Homo sapiens: one gene and its partner. The protein of the gene in region 2 purifies or fractionates together with the protein of the main gene of each other region. This does not show direct contact. Each region holds a gene or a part of one and is shown on either strand. Other genes may lie near its edges.

Region 1 (3,648 bases), on a different chromosome or scaffold from region 2:
CAGCCAGCCTCTGCTGCATCCCCATCCTCCATCTGTACCTTGAGTCCCTGAGTGGAGCGTGGGAATCCTGCTGGGTCATGGACAAGAAGTCGGTAACATCTATGGTCCCTTCTTCTAGCTCTTCCTCCTCGTCCTCCTCTTCTTCCCGGCCTAAAGAGCGGGATAGGCCCCCAGGTCCCCCTGGTCGAATACTCTCTGGATTCAGCTGCCGCCAGGAAGTAGGGGGCATGGTGGGTTCCGGACGCCACCAGCTGTCGGCAGGGGAGCCAAAGCGATCAGCTAGCACTCGGTATTTGGCTGCGTCAAACAACTCATTCCGGGGACCTAGCAGACCCCAACCCTGGAGGGGAAAAGGGACGTTTTAAGGATTGATACCATCTTTACACCTCAGTCGGCCTGGTCCGTGTCCAGCTACACCGTTAAGTTGTGTTGTGCAGCCGTGGTTTTTCATCTGTTTACCCACTTCAGCCCCTAGTCCAGAACTGGGCATGGAACTCTCAAAGATGCCTAGCTTTGATGCAAACAAATAACCCCACATGGCAATGGGTGAGCAGAAGATACTGTTTGTTTTTTGTTTTTTTGACACAGGGTCTCGCTCTGTCACCCAGACTGGAGTGCAGTGGCACAATCACGGCTCACTACAACCTCTGCCTCCTGGGCTCAGGTGACCCTCCCACCTCAACTTCCAAAGTAACTGGGACTAAAGGCATGCACCACAACGCCCAGCGAATTTTTGTAGCAACAGGGCTTCACCATGTTGCCCAGGATGGTCTTGAACTCCTGGACCCAACAGATCCGCCCGCCTTGGCCTCCCAAAGTGCTAGGATTACAGACATGAGCCACCGCACCAAGCCCAAGAAGATACATTCACATAATGATCTAGGAAGCTTCAGTAAATACAGCAATTAAAAAGTACGTAGGGCCGGGTGCGGTGGCTCACACCTGTAATCCCAGCACTTTGGGAGGCCGAGACGGGCGGATCATGACGTCAGGAGATCGAGACCATCCTGGCCAACACGGTGAAACCCTGTCTCTACTAAAAATACAAAAAAATTAGCCAGGCGTGGTGGCGAGTGCCTGTAGTCCCAGCTACTTGGGAGGCTGAGGCAGGAGAATGGCGTGAACCTGGGAGGCGGAGCTTGCAGTGAGCCAAGATCATGGCACTGCACTCCAACCTGGGCGACAGAGCAAGATTCCGTCTCAAAAAAAAAAAGAAAAGAAAAGAAAAAAAAATACGTAGCCAGACGGGCACAGTGGCTCACACCTGTAATCCCAGAACTCTGGGAGGCCCAGGCAGGTGGACTACTCGAGGTCAGGAGTTGGAGACCAGCCTGGCCAACATGGCGAAACCCCATCCTCCTAAAAATACAAAAATTAGCCGGGCGTGGTGGTGGGCACCTGTAATCTCAGCTACTCAGGGGGCTGAGACAGGAGAATCGCTTGAACCTGGGAGGCAGTGGTTGCAGTGAGCTGAGATGGGGCTGCTGCACTCCAGCCTGGGCAATAGAGACTCCACAAAAAAACAAACAAACAAACAAACAAAAAAACCTATGTAGCCCACACCATGAAACGGATACAACTTCTGTTATAAGAAGTTATATATAAGAATATAAGAATCCTGAAGGCTGGGCACGGTGGCTCACGCATGTAATCCCAGCACTTTGGGAGGCCGAGGTGGGCGGATCACCTGAGGTCAGGAGTTTGAGACCAGCCTGACCAATATGGAGAAACCCCGTCTCTACTAAAAACACAAAATCAGCTGGGCATGGTGGTGCATGCCTGTAATTCCAGCTACTTGGGAGGCTGAGGCAGGAGAATCACTTGAACCTGGGAGGCAGAGGTTGCGGTGAGCTGAGATCGCACCATTGCACTCCAGCCTGGGTAACAAGAGCAAACCTCCGGCGAAACTCCGTCTCAAAAAAAAAAAAAAAAAAAAGAGAATATAAGAATCCTATGTTAGGAATACATTCTAGAGAAATAACTTGAAATGTTAAAGCTATTTATACAAAAATATGATTTTAAATGTGTTATAGCTTCATGCTTTTCTACAGAAAATATAAATTAAACATTGCCTAAGTCTCTAGCATGTACGCAGCAACATGTTGGCCACCTAAGCATCATCAGGAGAGACAAGACCTGGTCCTTGCCCTCAAGCAGTTCGGAATATAAGAGGCAGTTAGCCAGGGGTGGTGGTATGTGCCTGTAGTCCCAGAGACTTGGGAGGCTGAGGCAAGAGGATCACTTGAGGCCTACAGATCGAGGCTGCAGTGAGCCATGATCACACCACTGAACTCCAGCCTGGGTGACAGAGCAAGACCCTATCTCCAAAAACAAACAAACAAACAAACAAGGAATCTAAGCAGCAGAAGAGAAATGCAGATGGCCAGGGTCTAAGGAACAAAGACGTGGGTGAGATGAGTGAGCAGCTGGGAGAACAGGAGCAACTGCAAAGAAAGCACAGGTTGCAGGAGCTGCCACTGGGAGTGGTAAAGGCGACAAAGTCTGCGGGACAGCAAGAACAAGGCCTGTCAGGTGAACATCAGGGCCATGTGACAGCAGACAGCACGGGCCACGGGCCAGGAACCTCTCTACAGTGAGCTTTCAATCCCACCCAACTCATGACAAGCTGGAGAGTGACCATGGCCTGCCTTCATAAAACTTTCTCCTTGGGTTTTTGAGATAATTAAATTTAATTTTAAAAATTCTATTCACAACAGTAACAAAAACCATCACCTACCTAAGGTGAACTAAGGTGGGTCAGAAAGGTATGGACTAAGCACACAACTTGGCAAAAGGATGTAAATCCATGGAGATATATGTTCCTGGATGATAGAACTTTTATGTGTGAGGAGACAAAAACCTCTTAAATTAATCCATAAATTGAACACAATTCCAATCAAAGTCTGCAGAGGCTTCTTATTAAGCATTTGACAAACCAATTCTAAAGTCTGTCTATTAAGAATAGACGCGTGAAAACCGCAGGATTATGGGACAGACGATGGGGCCAAGGTATGCCACACACACATTCGCGAACCCTTGGGGCAGGGCCCGATCCAAGGCTCAGCTGCCACACTTTTGCGTCACCGCCTCCCTTCTGACAAGAATGCCTCTGGTTCCACAGAGCAGCAATACAAGCATCCCTCCTTGGCCTGGCTTCCCCAGCAGGACAGCACCGTTCTCCCCCTGCCTTTGCAACCACTCTTTCACTAGACCAGAGGATCTCGTCCCCACAGGCTCACTGCTGGTCCTGGCCATGCTCCCACACCGGTCCTGAGCTGTACCAACATCCACCAGCCACTGTTCTTGCCATAACCTAGGCGCCAACCCATTGCTCGTCCACAGCTCCCCCTGCTGGCGCATGCTGCCCCTCCAACCCATTCTCCCTCCCACCTCCTCAACTGTCCAGGAGCTGTCCGTGCAACTTCTCTAATACCTTTTTGTTGTTGTTCCTTTTTAGAGACAGAGTCTCACTCTGTCACCCAGGCTGGAGTGCAATGGCATCATCTCGGCTCACTGCAACCTCTGCCTGCCAGGTTCAAGCGATTCTCCTGCCTCAGCTTCCTGTGTAGCTGGGATTACAGGCGTACGCCACCAGGCCCGGCTAATTTTTGTATTTTTAGTAGAGATGGGGTTTCACCATGTCGGCCA
Region 2 (3,654 bases):
ACATCCATTATTTCTGGCCCTGAGGTGGCCTGGGGAAGTGTTAGCAATGACCTCTGTAAAGTGCTAGGAGGTACACATCTGAGAGCTCCAAGGACTAGCTAAGAGCCTCTTCTTGCCCCTTTCCCTGCTTCTGTCCTTGCAGGAAAACCCCTCAAGTGACAGTGATGGGGATGGTTGACAGGCAGGTGTCTTTAGGCTGGAGGGAGGCTGTGGTCAGAGCTGGCACCTGGTCATCTGCGTCTCCCAGCCGCCCACCAGCTGGGGCAAGGTTGGAGGGAGGGGCTGACCCCGGCAGGACTCACTCTCCAGCACACATTTTTAATATGCAAGTTAAATAAATATTTCAATCATTTAATAGCCACCAGTCTGATACCCACTTCTAAGAGGACTGCCCTATGTCACAGTCCTTTCCTCCCTGCCCCACCTGGGGGTGCAGTGGAGTCCCTGGCTGCCCAGCCAACTGGCCCTGGAGGTACTGGGGCCTCAGCAGCACAGGCTAGAGAAAGCCCCCCACCCCCGCAAACCCCCAGCCGGAATCCCAGTCTAGGCCACTAATGGAGCTTTCTGAGAGTTAAGAAGACAGACACCACAGCCAAGTGGAATACAAAAATAGAGCCTCTCTTTTGTTTTAAAAAAAAAAAAAAAAAAAAAAACAGCAAAAACCCAACAGCAAACAATATCAACAACCGGAACCCAGGGCTCCCCCAGCACCTCCCCAGCCTGCAGAGCAGCGCACAGCTCATCTTGCTTGAGTTTTGGGTGCCCTACAGGATGAGCCTCTCTGCGGTCTGGCATTGTGGGGAGGGCCAGGCAGCACCTATCGGGGCTCGGGGGCCCAAGTCCTCTGGCTGCCGCGCAGGCTGCGCGTGAAGGGCGGGTAGTTGAGGAACTCGAAGCGCAGGCTCTGCTCGGTGGTGTGGTGGCCCCGGGGCAGCCGCTTCATGAAGTGGACCTCACGCTGGTGCTGCCGCGTCTTGGAGCCCTTGCGGGGCCGGCCCTTGCGGGTGAAGGCCATGTACCAGCCCTCGTACTTGGCATTCTGCAGCGCTGTGTAGTTGTTCTCCAGCACAATCTCCGTGAAGACGCAGTCCTTGCCTTTGCCGTTGCTCTGCAGGTAGGGGAGCCAGACACCACGTTACAGAGCCCCCCCAGCAGAGGCAGAGGGCGAGCGGCCCCAGACAGCAGGTGGGCACCCCAGCAGATGGCGAGGTGGGCAGGAGCCGCAGCCCCACCCCCTGCCTGGGCACCCGCTCTCTAATCCCTCACAACTCGCAGCCCACCCGGCAACTTCCTGTCCTCCCAGGCAGCAGTGACACATGGTTGTCTACGGAGGGGCTGGGCCCCAACGCAGAAAGACAGAGAGAGGGGCCCAGAGCCTGGCCTGCTCTGGCCTCCTGCCCACCAGTCTGGCCACCCGTCTCCCCACCTGCCCCTCTCACCCCCCCAGGACTTCGGTTCCCTGGCCCCAGGGCAGCCACCCTATGGGGGAGGGGAGGCCTGGGAGAAGATGCTAAGACCCCAGCCCCAGAAGCCCAGGAAGTGGGGAGCTCGAGGCTGGAGAGGAGCCGTGACTAATGGAGCCATTTCAGAGCTCGGCCGAGGGGCTGGGCCTGCGGCTTACTGAACATTCCAAATGCTGGTACCATGTAATTGGACATAATAGCAAAGCAATTTGGCGATTTGTTAAAAAGATATATGGAATTTACCAACCACCACCCCCCAGCCCCTTCCCTAGCCTTCATTCTTCCTCCTTCGCCTTTTATAGTTTTCATCTCTCAAACAGCTTCCTTCTCCCTCACTCCTGCACCCAATCGTGAGGTAACCCCAAGATGGCCCTGTGGCCTTCTGCCTACCTTGTTGGGATCAGAGCCCAGGACTGTCTTGGAGGAGTCCAGCCAGCCCAAGCCACTCCCTAGGTCCCGCGGACCCCACCTGCCTGCTGGGGCCTCACCTTGGCGATCAGCTTCCCCTTCTTGTTCATGCAGATGTAGAGGCCCGTCTCGGCTCCTCGGACTCGAACTCTGCTTCCAAAGGTGTCCGTCTCCACGATGAGCTTTGCTGTCAGAGAAGGTAGCAGGATGGCTATTGGCAGATCCCTGACCCCAGCTGGCCCACACACTTGTCACAGCCCAGCAGCAACTGCTCCAAAGACCAGGAACCCAAAACATGGACTCCAGCTCCAGCCCAGCTACTAACATGCTGTGCAACCCAGAGAAAGGGCTTTTCTGGACCTCGGGCCCCACCCCTGGGTTTACAGAGGGCAGTGGACGGGATTATGGTTTTCAAACTGGGTTCTCAAGAGAGGTCTTGGGACTATCAAATTGAAAAGGCTGAAGTGCCATTCCTTCCACCCTCTTTTTAAACCAGACAGTGATGTCTCTTAGATTGAGGATCTAAGTAAAATTTAATTGAATCAGAGTTCCATAGCTAATCAAAAGATCTCCGAGGATCCTTCCAACTCCAAATATTATGTGTGCGTGTCTCACAGGTCATTACAAACACTTGGGTGAAGGGGTGACCTCCAGTCCCAAGGCCAAAGATGAAAGCATTGTCTCCTGTTTCTGCCACTTTGGGTTCTAACTCACAGCTTTGGCCACCCCCAGCCCCTCAACATCACCAGGCTCTGCTCTGCTGAGAAGGTGCTAGGGATGGGGACAGCTCTCCCTAAACACACAGCCCAAAGCAGGCTGCTTTCCCAGAACCTCAGACACCTGCCAGGAGGATCCTGCCTCTTCCCTGTGGCTTCCCAGTCACCAGGGTCCCCAGCCCAGTGTCTAGAAATCAACAACTCAATTGTCTTTTCTCTTTCAGCCTCATCACAGCTGGGCTTCTCAGCCCAGTGACCAAATAGCTTCTGTGGGTGAGGAGGAGGGAGAATCCTGCCTGCTGGCCTCTTAGACTGGAGGCCAGGAGGCAGGGCTGAATTCTATGCCTCCTTTCCCATTCCCCTCCCCTTAGACAGCCAACTTGCCACAGAAGCCTGTCCTGTTCACCTCTCTGTGCAATCATCTCTTATAGGCTGTCCTCAAGAAAGTAGTGAGGGTGACTTCACTGTTTAGGAAGGGACAGAAGGCGCTGGCTCTCCTGCCGTCCCTGCCGCAGAGCCCAGCCTCTCCCCTCCCTGAGAAAGCAGTTCTTGGACTTAGCCTGCATTGACATATGGCACCTCCTCTGTCCCTGAAACCCATGGCAGGGGTTTGGGGCATCGAGGTCAGCAAGTCAGTCATCACTGCTCAGCTTGTAATGTTCCCCGCTTCACACAGGCTCAGTGCTGGGACCAGTGGCCAAGCCCCCGGTTTGGCCCCAAGTCAGCAGGGAAATGCAGCTGTCACCTCCCTGCCTGCCCACCTCCTCCTGGACCTAGCCAGTCTGCTCATCCCTCTCCCGCTCTGCCTTCCACAGCAAGAGGCAGCTATTTTTAAGGGCCAGGAAGGATGCTGACTGGAGGAGTGAGAGGATGCCACTCTGGGGATTCTGGCCAGATGCGGCAGGCAGGGATGAAGTAGGTGCCTCTGCATCTTCCTGGGGCCGGTAAAGAAGCCATTGAGACCTCTCTGCTATTCTCCCCGGACTACTCCTGTCCTGGCTGAACACCCTGAGCCTCTGTTCTTAGGGCCTCCAGCTCCTATCCTGCTGTGGGGCAGGGACTAGGGA

What was found. Proteins that work in one complex are often made in the same cells at the same time.
Region 1: the proteins of FGF8 (region 2) and DHX30 purify together in Homo sapiens (affinity purification with mass spectrometry; 2 studies listed by BioGRID and IntAct, with this or other methods). This does not show direct contact.

The regions. Positions count from the first base shown.
Region 1 is NC_000003.12:47,837,569-47,841,216, reverse strand, and holds part of DHX30 (ATP-dependent RNA helicase DHX30), read right to left. Parts: intron 341-3,648; coding exon 39-340; intron 1-38.
Region 2 is NC_000010.11:101,769,512-101,773,165, forward strand, and holds the end of FGF8 (fibroblast growth factor 8 isoform F precursor), read right to left. Parts: intron 2,066-3,654; exon of another isoform or gene 2,059-2,065; coding exon 1,952-2,058; intron 1,186-1,951; exon of another isoform or gene 1,109-1,185; coding exon 818-1,108; 3' UTR 598-817; downstream 1-597. UniProt on the Homo sapiens protein: Plays an important role in the regulation of embryonic development, cell proliferation, cell differentiation and cell migration. Required for normal brain, eye, ear and limb development during embryogenesis.